Regions from separate parts of the Homo sapiens genome. Here region 2 is linked to region 1. The links come from fine-mapping of genetic effects on gene expression. Tissue or cell type: coronary artery. Region 1 holds a variant in brackets; the other region holds the start of a gene. All regions are shown on one strand. Distances are between the middles of the regions.

Region 1 (5,383 bases):
AATATAGCTTAACATATTAAACTATGATAATAGATTACCTATAAGATATAAGGGAATTTATATGGTACCCTAGGGCTAAGGGAGAGATCCTAAGGAAAGTCAAACTTGAAAGGGGGACTCCCTTCCCGAGGCTGGGGTTCACACCAAATTGCAGAATGTGTATTTGTAACCCACTGGATGGCAGAGTTCACTAGTTTGTCAAGGCTAAAGTTGGTCTGCAGTTCCTGGGAAAGCAGGAAGCTACTCTCCAGTGATAGGTGAGCTACAGTGGTGGCTGGGCTTACAGGCATGCAGAGAGAGTGTAGGCAGGATGCCCAGAATACGTATTCTCCATGTTGGAAGAGCAGTAGCATTGAGATGGCCACAGGAGACAAACTTCTCACGGGGAGGAACAAGTAAGCAAAGGGAATTAGGCATTAGTACAGGCAGGAGGCCTGAATCATATGGTGTCCATGTTGAAAGGGCTGCAGAAAGGCGATTACTAGGCCAGGCAGGGCTATGAAGTCACTGAAAGACTATGAATTCTGAATGCATGGATGGGTCACCATTAGGTGTCCCTATACCCCACAGCTGACCCACAGTATGCTGCATGTAACAATAGGAGAGCCTCTTTATGTCCCTCCAGTGCCCTTTACTAAGAAAACTTAACATTGTGCTCACTGTAAAAGAGAAATGCTTAAAGGAATTTATCACAGAGCATGTACTGAAGGATGAATTTGGAGTTGAGAGGCAATAAATTAATAATTAATACACAGACCATGGGGAGAAAATAATAGGAATGGCTTTTCTAAGCATAATATAAAACCAAAAAATCTAAAAATAAAAGATTAATAATATATAAAAACAGAAAATGTATGCTTGGAAAAGAACACACATGCAAATTCTAAAGATAAATAGCTATGAGGAAAAATATTTGCTTCTCATATCATGTAGAGTTAATTTTCTACATACATAGAAAACTCCTACAACTCAGTAAGAAAAAAACATTCAATAACTCAGTAGAAAATGAGGATGGATATACACAGTCAGTTTTCAGAAAAGAAAATATAAATGACATTGAGACATGAAAATACATCAACCTCATTCATAGTAAGAGAAACCCAAATATGCAGAGATGTCACTTTCCACCTATATGATTGGCAAAAATTTTCTGTGACACATTTTCATGAGAATTTGAAGAAATAAGCATGCTTATATGCCATTTGTCAGTGTATAAATCGACATTATAGAGGGCAATTTGGTGACAGTATCACAATTTACATATCTTTTAAAGTAGCAAATTCACTTCTAGGACCTTATCCTACATATATATTTACACATGTACAAAAATAACTTAAGTACAAGATTATTCATTTTAGCACTGTTTGCAGTAACAAAAGATTGGAAACAAACTGAATGTCTGTAAATAGGGGATTGGTTACATAAAATCACGGTTCATCCATTAATGGAATACTCTATAATGATGTGAAATGATTGCTCAAATACAATAATCAACAAAAGCAAGATACAGAAAAGTATTGCCATCACTTCTATTTAGGGAAGAAAAATGATAGAATTACATATCCTTTTGAATTTCAAACCCTATGAATGTATGTATTCAAAACACATAAATATTAAAAATACATTTATGCTGATAAAATACCAATTTATATATAGGGAGTCTTTGTAAGATTTGATTTTTTATAAAGGGAATTCTGATTTTCTTTTTAAATATTTTTAATCCCCTCCCTAAACTGCATTCTGGTTTCTTGACCTGACCTCCAATGAAACATCAATCTAAGTTATCCTAACTGCCTAGGGCCATATTATCTATCTATAAGATAACCCAAAAAAGTTCATGTATGAAAGCCCAGAAATAGAATTCTTGAAGATTTTGTCAAGCCAAGGCATTTACATGATGTCCAACAAATATTAGCCATACTCAAGTGTTCTAGGTCAATAATATATGTCTACTGATTCCTGGAGTTTACCCAATTATTACCAATTTTTTATCCCTTATTTCTCTAACTTGACTTTCTGATAACCAACTAGAATGTGCCACAGCTTTACAGCCTCTGAAATCCTCTTCACCTTTACTTTAATGCTGGCTTATGCTGATCTAGCACTAGCCTGCTTATGCCTTTGTGACCAATCCCTCCAACAATGATATGAGTGTCAGCCTATTTCAAGACAACTCTATAGATAGATGATACACAGAGAAAAGACTTAAATTTTACATAAATGAGATAATACTATGCCTGCTGATTCCATTATCTAATTTTTTTTAATTAACAGTATATTGTAGGCCAGGTGTGGTGGCTCACGCCTATAATCCCAACACTTCGGGAGGCAAGTTGGGAGGATCGCTTGAGCGCATGAGTTCGAGACCAGCCTGGGCAACATAGCAAGACCTTGTCTCTACTAAAATTTTAAAAATTAGCCAGGTGTGGTGGTTCATGCCTGTAGTCCCAGCTACTCCAGAGGC[T/C]AAGGAGAGAGAATCGCTTGAGCCTGGGAGTTTGAGGCTGCAGTGAATCATGATCACGCCACTGTACTCCAGCCTGGGTGACAGAGCGAGACCCTGTCTCAAAAAAAATTAATTAGTTTAATTAAATAAAACATAAGTTAAACCAGTTTCAACCTTAGCTGCACATTAGATTTGCCTGAGGAAGTTTTAAAATATATCAGTGCGTGGAGCCCACCTGATAAAATTTAAATGTCTGAGGGTATGTCTCAATGCCTCAAACTCTCTCTCTCTCTTTTTTTTTTTTTTTATAGACAGAGTCTGGCTCTGTTACTCAGTCTAGAGTACAGTGGCACAATCTCAGCTTACTGTAACCTCCACCTCCTGGGCTCAAGCCATTCTCCCACCTCAAGTCCCAAGTAGCTGGAACTACAGGCACGGGTCACCATGCCTGGCTAATTTTTATATTTTTTTTAGAGACGGGGTTTCACTATGTTGCACAGGCTGGTCTTGAACTCTTGAGCTCAAGCAGTCTGTCCACCTCGGCCTCCCATAGTGCTGGGATTACAGGCGTGAGCCACTGCACCCAGCCCTTAAACATTATTTTACTCTCAATTATTACTGTTTTTAGGTATGCATATTAGAGATGACATACAGTGGAATTTTTCAATCTAGTCCAATAATTTGTTTTTTAGCTGGTATATTTTAGGAAGTAAGTTTGTATTTATTGTAATTACTGACCTTATTATTATTAAGATTATTCTGATTATCTTACTTGGTGTTTACTATTTGTCCTGCCTTTTCTTTGCTTGCTTCTCCCATTTACTATCTGATTTTGGGTTTGTTTTTTTTTTTTCCACTCTATTTTTTTTTAAAGTGTATAATCTATTTATTTTCTTTTAGGGGTTGCCCTAAATTAATTGGTATCTCTACCCTTCACTAAACAATACCTTAGAATGCTTTAACTCCGATCATCTCCCTCTCATCGTGCATATTTTTGCCCCTGTATTTTACCCCCAAATTAGACATTACTGCTATTGTTTTATACAGCTAATATTTATTTCATTTTACTCATATATTTACCAATTTATTTGCTTACCCTTCCTTCTTGCATATCAGACCATTTCTCTGTGATCAGTTACCCTCTCTCTTCCTTGAATTATATCCTTTAAATCAGCACCATTTACTAGATATGTAATGTGAGCCACACATATAATACAAATTTTTCTATTAGCCACCTTTAAAAATAGAAAAAAAAAAAAAAAAAAAAGCAGGCAATGGCCGGGCGCGGTGGCTCACGCCTGTAATCCCAACACTTTGGGAGGCCAAGGCGGGCAGATCACCTGTCAGGAATTTGAGACCAGCCTGCCCAACATGGCGAAACCCCGTCTCTACTAAAAATACAAAAAAAGCCAGGCATGGTGGCAGCCACCTATAATCCCAGCTACTCAGGAGGCTGAGGCAGGATAATCGCTTGAACTCGGGAGGCGGGGTTGCAGTGAGCCAAGATCGTGCCACTGCACTCCAGCCTGGGCAACAAGAGCAAAACTCTGTCTCAAAAAATAAAATAAAAAATAAACAGGCAAAACAAATTTTAATATTTTATTTGTCCTGACATATCCAAAATATCATTTCAGTATGTAATCAATATAAAAATTTATTGAATTTTTTATATTGTCTTTTTTTTTAATTTTGAGATGGAGTCCCACTGTGTGGCCCAGGCTGGAGTGCAGTGGCATGATCTCAGCTCACTGCATCCTCTGCCTCCCAGGTCTAAGTGATTCTTATGCCTCAGTCTCCCGAGTAGCTGGGATTACAGGTGTGCACCACCACACCCGGCTCATTTTTGTATTTTTTTTTTTTTTTTTAGTAGATGTGGGGTTTCACCATGTTGGCCAGGCTGGTCTCGAACTCCTGACCTCAAGTGATCCACCCACCTCAGCCTCCCAAAGTGCCAGGATTACAGGCTTGAGCCACCGCCCCCAACCAATATTAAACTTTTTTATGTTTGTTTGTTTTTTGAGACGGAGTCTCGCTCTGTTTCCCAGGCTGGAGTGCAGTAGCGCGATCTCGGCTCACTGCAAGCTCTGCCTCCCGGGTTTACGCCATTCTCCTGCCTCAGCCTCCCGAGTAGCTGGGACTACAGGCACCCGCCACCATGCCCGGCTAATTTTTTTATTATTATTATTTTTTGTAGAGACGGGGTTTCACCTTGTTAGCCAGGATGGTCTCGATCTCCTGACCTCATGATCCGCCCACCTCGGCCTCCCAAAGTGCTAGGATTACAGGCGTGAGCCACCGCGCCCGGCCAATATTATCTTTTTTACTACTCTTCAAAGTCTTATGTGTATTTTACATGGACAACAAACCTTCAGTTAGAGTAGCCACGTCTCAGATAATAACCACAGGCGGCCAGTGGCTGCCATATTTGACAGAGGCCCGGCTGGATCAGTTGTTAATCTGTGCCTCTCATTTTGCCAGCTGGGAAAGTGCTGCTTTTCTGGTGCTTTTTTGTTTTTTGGGGTTTTTTTTGAGACGGAGCCTCGCTCTGTCGCCCAGGCTGGAGTGCAGTGGCGCGATCTCTGCTCACTGCAACCTCCACCTCCCGGGTTCATGCCATTCTCCTGCCTCAGCCTCCCGAGTAGGTGGGACTACAGGCGCCCGCCACTACGCCTGGCTAATTTTTTTTTTTTTTATTTTTAGTAGAGACGGGGTTTCACCATGTTAGCCAGGATGGTCTCTATCTCCTGACCTCGTGATCCGCCTGCCTCGGCCTCCCAAAGTGATTGCAGGCGTGAGCCACCGCGCCCGGCCTTTCTGGCGCATTTTTAAGGTGTGTTTCTCTATTCTGGAGCTGACTCCTAGAGCCCTCAAGCTGGATTTGAAGGAGAAGCTGTTTGGACAGCATGTTGCCGCGGAAGTGATTCTCAAGGCACTGACTGG
Region 2 (5,383 bases), 280 kb after region 1:
TCCATTAGGAGGATTCCTGAGCCTGCAAACCTGTTCCCTTTGTGCATCCTGGAGGGACAGCCCCTGCCCCATACCTTCCAATACCCTCACCAAACCAGATGAAGCTCACCCTCAAATTCCTGTGTGAAGTGAGAGACAAAAAAACCCCAAACCTGAAGTGTCTGAAATAAATGTCCAAATTATTTGAACAAAACCTGGGTAGGTAGAAACCAAAGGGTTTCACTTGAATGCTTGGCAGTAACGTCTCAACTGGTCTTTCCACCTGTGCTACAATCCACTGTGAAGTCCATTATTCCATTCTTGTACCAAGTCCCCTTCCACATTCCTTTCACTTCAGACATGTTTGCTGATGTTTACACCTCTCCATAGACTACCCAGCCTATCGTCGCATGCCCAAAGCTTTATTTCCCCAAACCTGCCCTGTGCCAGGGAAACTGCTCTCCAGTTCTCAGGATATTTATGCTATGTTCTCCCACCTCTTATGTCTATATTTTTTGTGGCTTCTTCCCTCTGCCTCAGATACCCCTTGGTAGTTCTACTGTTCTAAATCCTACCCCTATCCTATCCCTTCACTGCATCTCCAAGGCCATTTTCTCCACAAAGCTTTTCTTTAACACATGGGGCTGGTAGGTAAGCCATGAACATTTGTGGAACAAGGTAATCCTCCAAACAAGGGTGATTTTTCTTTCACTGAACCCTTCCCTCCCTTTGTGCTTCTTTTTGGAGCCTCACACTCTTCTGAATTTGTTGAATCCCCAACCAGCTGGAAATTCCCTAAGGCCCGAAACTGTTTCTGGCCTAGGCTGTGCTGATCTTCCTGGGACTAAGGGGTTTCCTGGGTCACAGATCTTCTGTGCTAAAACCAGGAAAGCCTCTGGTGACCCAGCATGTGTTGATCTCCCTAGTCTTGCCTGTCTTTGATTCCATGGATTATTAACAGAAACTATAATGTTGGGTTAATGTGTTGGCTTGGGCATGGCCTCCGAAACATGTTTTTTACATGTCTGCCACCAGCAGGCTCTAGATCCAGGAATGAGGCTTTTCCACTAAGGGAAAACTCCACGTGATCTAGGAAGAAAGTGAGGATATCCAACCAGATGATAAATTTCCTATCTGAAAGAGAAGGTCAACCCTGAAATAAGGAGGCTGAAGACCCTTAGAGAAGCCACAGAAGAGACTGGAAGAAGAGGGGTAGAGTTGCTTTTTTAATGGGGCTTCCAGCTCCTACTTTTCTTCCTGTCTGTAAGTCTCTGAGCTTCTGTTCCAGCTCTGTAAGGTTGGGGACGAGAATGCTCTCCCCACTGGACTGTTGAGAGTTCAATGAGGGGAAATGTGTGCATATACCAGGCCCCATGCTGGGTGCCCAGAGACGCTGCGCCTTCCTGGCATGCTTCTCTTCCCCATCGCTCAGCACCGCGTCCCTCACTCCCTCCACTCCCGATTCTCACTTCCTACTCACTGGCTTCTTCCTTCCCATCTTCCTCCAAACTTCCCATTTTCCACTATGTCTCTCTCACCGTATCTTTTTCACTTAAACAAAAATGGAATTCATAAAAACAGAGGCCAAAAGTCAGGATAAACCTGGAAAAATCACCAAGTACGCAAAGTTTTTCTTGCAAGGTTTGGTTTTTTCAAATGCCTTCTTTGTTTTCCTTGCCCATATCCTTCTTCGGAGAGTCAGGATTTGGGGTTTGCAGAGCTGTGTGGCAGTGGAATGTGGAATGTTCTCCTGAATCTCAGTCCCATGAAGAAAAGAGGCAAAAGTCCTGACATCTTTCCTGAGGATTGTCTGATTTAAAAGAGCTGATTCTCCCCAGGCAAATGACTTACCTTTGTTGTGCTGGGACAAGCTGAACAGGCAAGGAATAAACCTCCCTAGAACACACTGATTAGATTAGCCAGTGAGAACCACTGAAGACGCAGACATTAGATTAAAAAACAGAAAAATGAATGTTACTTTTACAGTGGCTATGAATAGACAAAGACTTTTTGGTTTGAAAATAGTTGGTGAGGCAATAGAGGAGGGGCTATGTTAATAGCAGAGATAGAAAAAACGAGAGGTGGATGGTTCCAACTGCAAGGTCCACCCTAAAGGAATTGGAGTCAGGGCCCAGGAGCCACAGGCCACTGCACTGGGGTAAGTAGAGTGGATTTTACATAAATAAAGTTACAGAGTGGTTGTAGGTTCTGGTTTGGAGATGTGAGTGAACCAACTGAATAGAATAGGCAGATTCCCCAGCCCACCAAGAGTCAGATGAGAATTTTATTGCTTTTTGCTAAAGGCCTGTACAAGACTTAGAGCAAAGATAAGGAGTAACCTGATTGTTGAAACTAATCTATAAGTATTCCAACATAGCAAAGGACAAGTAACGGAATGACGAGGTTTTCCTGTAGTAGTGTTGCGATTTTGTTCTGCTGTGTCCCCCTACTCCAGTTTCCTCTGTGAGGGGAGCGTGTAGTGTGTGCATATCTGTGGAATGTCAGACTTCTAAAGTCAGGGGCTGAGACCTATATCTAGTTAGACCTCTGTGCATATTCTTGAGCCATGGGAGTCTCAGTGGTTGATAGTACTTCACACTTCTTCCAGTTCAATAAGGGTTACCTATGGTGTCTCCTCTGAGTCTCCTAGGAGTCCAGAAAACATGAGACTTGTATAAGAATCCACACTTCAACTAAGCTTTCTGGCCCAAAGAAGGCATTGTTACCAAGGATCTGTTTCTTGAGGTCTTTAGGGAGTGAGAGGGAAGGAACGCATGAGGAACCAGAGCTAGTCCCCATCTCTCTCCCTAGAAGTGACAGACTGCATAGCTCTTATGTATCAGGAGTCCTGGAGATCAGCTGGCTTTCCTTAAAAAAGGGTCATCCAGCCGTGATGAAATCCTGACTTAGAAACCCAGTGCCCTTAGCTTTGTGGGCTTCTGTCCCTGAGAAATGGTGTTTTACCCTCCCTCCAAGCAGGCATCCCAGGATTTGGAATTCAGCTGTGAGCTCATGAGCTGATGGATGTTTCCAGGAGTACCCTGAAGACCACCCAGGTATGCTCTCCCCACCTCCTTTATTTTGGATGGACCAGTCTAAGGAGAGTCATCTTTTCCCACACCATTGGTGGCACTCAGTGAGTGGCTTGTTGCTTGACTGAATGCCTGCCCACACCCTCTCCAGTCAAGTTTATCTTGAGTAACTAAACACTTAGCAATGGAGACACTCATACATCTCCACTGCACTAGAAGTAGGGATGGTGGCCATGCCAACAAAGGAGATAACTTTAGCACAAAGGATGTCACAAGAAACAGATAGTAGAGTGTGTTCTCCAGTGTTATCATTTCCCAAACCAGAATCAACTGGTCTTGGGTTTCCTTCCCTCATCCTTCATCTGTAGAAAACTTTGTTTCTTGAGCTACTTCAGATCTACTTCCCTATCTTAAGAGGTGGGCTATGTGCTTCTTCTGCTAATTTATTATCTCAGAAGTACATAATTTGAGCAATTTTATATAGTTTTGAGGACAGGAGCCCTGTAAGAGTCTCTTACTCAGAAATGGATTCAGCTTGGTTTGAGGTTTAATAGGTCATTGCAATGCTCCCTTCTGGTATCACAGGACATAAGCTGGGTTGGGCGGAGTCCCCCTTTTGTGTCTTAGCCTTCCTCTCCTTACTCCAGAGTAAGAGCAGCCCTGATGGAAAAACAAAATTACCATCCATGCCTACTTCATTTCTGCCCCTCTTACTCTAAGTCTGGGCAATCCGCAACATCTTTTTATATTGGACTTCCTAGATCACAGACTCTTTTTTTAGGAAGAGTCAATTCAAGCCACCCAGGACTTATGATCCCTTGCTCTGTGTCGGGCACAGTGTGAGCACAGTAATGGCATGGGCTGCCTGATGTGGGGCAGTCCCTCTTGGTCAGCAATTCACTCAGCAGCCATCTCAGTGCCCCCTGTGTAAATTTGAGGCACTTTGCCAGGCTGTGGGAACAGTGTGGGGTTAAACAGCACATGGTCCTTGCCCTCAGAAAGCTTAAAATCCAAAGTCAGATACAAGGTTATTTAACAGATGCGTGTTAATTAACAATTAAAGCTAATGTGCACTGTTCCATTGAACAAACATGACTTATGTGGTAAAATCAGAAAGCAGCTTGATTTTTGTCTCTTACTGCTCTTTTACATTTACTCTTTTTTTTTTTTTTTTTTTGAGATGGAGTCTCGCTCTGTCGCTAGGCTGGAGTGCAGTGGCACAATAATTGGCTCGCTGCAACCTCCACCTCCTGAGTTCAAGCGATTCTCCTGCCTCAGCCTCCTGAGTAGCTGTGGTTGTAGGCACCCACCACCACGCCCAACTAATTTTTGTATTTTTAGTAGAGATGGGGTTTCACCATGTTGACCAGGCTGGTCTCGAACTCCTGACCTCAGGCGATCCACCCACCTCGGCCTCCCAAAGTGTTGAGATTACAGGCGTGAGCCACTGCACCCAGCCTCTTTTACATTTATTCGGTGGGACTAGCTCTTGCTTTGCCCCTGAATGGAATTTAGGCAAGTCACAAGGTTGTTCCAGCCACCCTTGGTCTCAGTCTCATTTTAATAATTATAATTTCCAGTCCTACCTAAAGATACCACTTCAATCTTGACTTGGAGTGGAGCCTCTTCTGGTGCTGCTAAAGAACAGAGGCCCGTGGTGGATGGTGGTCTGGATGGGGAGTCCCTGGTTTCCACTCTTCCTCACTTATTTAGCTAACCAGGGTCCTCAACCCCGTCAGGGTTGTTGCCTGGAAGAGAAGAGGTGAGAAGAATATGAAAACTATACGTTTGTGATCTCCAGCTCACCAGTGGAACATGGTGATTCTTTTACAGATTCTTGCTGTAACTCCTCTGTTACTCCCCTCAAAGGCCAGCTTTTTCCACCCCTGTAGGAAATTCCTTTCCTACACCCACCCCATTTATCTCATCCTCATGGCCCCATGGGAATTTCTCTGCTTCTGCCCCCACCCATCATCTCTTTCCTGCCCATTTCTCCTCCATCTTGGATGAAGCTACCCTCTTCCCCTGGTCCTGGTTCAGCCTTTCATCGCTGCTCAGTAACATGAACCCCCAAAAAGCCAGCCAGCAAAGCAGAGCAGGCCTGCCTAGCATAGAAAATGCCAGAATTTGGAGAACAAAAGTGCTTTTTTGGATAGGACTGTTTTTTGTTGTTGCTCATACAACACAGCTCTTTGTGATTAATCTACATTTAACATAGCTCCAATCAAAGTGATAAAGAAATATTTTTATTAAAATGATTTCCTTTTATGGCAAAATAAGCATAAGATTGACCATTTTAACTATTTTTGAATGTACAATTCAGTGGCATTAATTATATTCACATTGTTCTGTAATACAACCATCACCACCAT

Direction of the effects. Positions count from the first base shown, and alleles are read on the strand shown. Sizes are in standard deviations (SD) of each study's normalised expression.
For the expression in coronary artery of the gene that starts at base 2,077 in region 2, allele C in region 1 goes with a higher level than allele T (large effect, 0.80 SD a copy in GTEx).

The links. PIP is the estimated chance that this variant, and not a neighbour inherited with it, causes the effect.
Region 2: it holds the start of SLC4A5, and the variant in region 1 is the best candidate, but not a certain one, in a credible set for the expression of SLC4A5 in coronary artery (GTEx, PIP 0.55).

The regions. Positions count from the first base shown.
Region 1 is chr2:74,620,871-74,626,253 of GRCh38, reverse strand. The region is part of intron 2 of M1AP (meiosis 1 associated protein); the gene reads left to right. Among named protein-coding and RNA genes, the nearest start is that of M1AP, 25 kb to the left of the region's middle. The variant T/C (reference allele first, on the strand shown) is at 2,465.
Region 2 is chr2:74,340,110-74,345,492 of GRCh38, reverse strand. SLC4A5 (solute carrier family 4 member 5) reads left to right here and starts at 2,077. Exons shown (of 31, transcript NM_133478.3): 1 at 2,077-2,137; 2 at 2,959-3,035.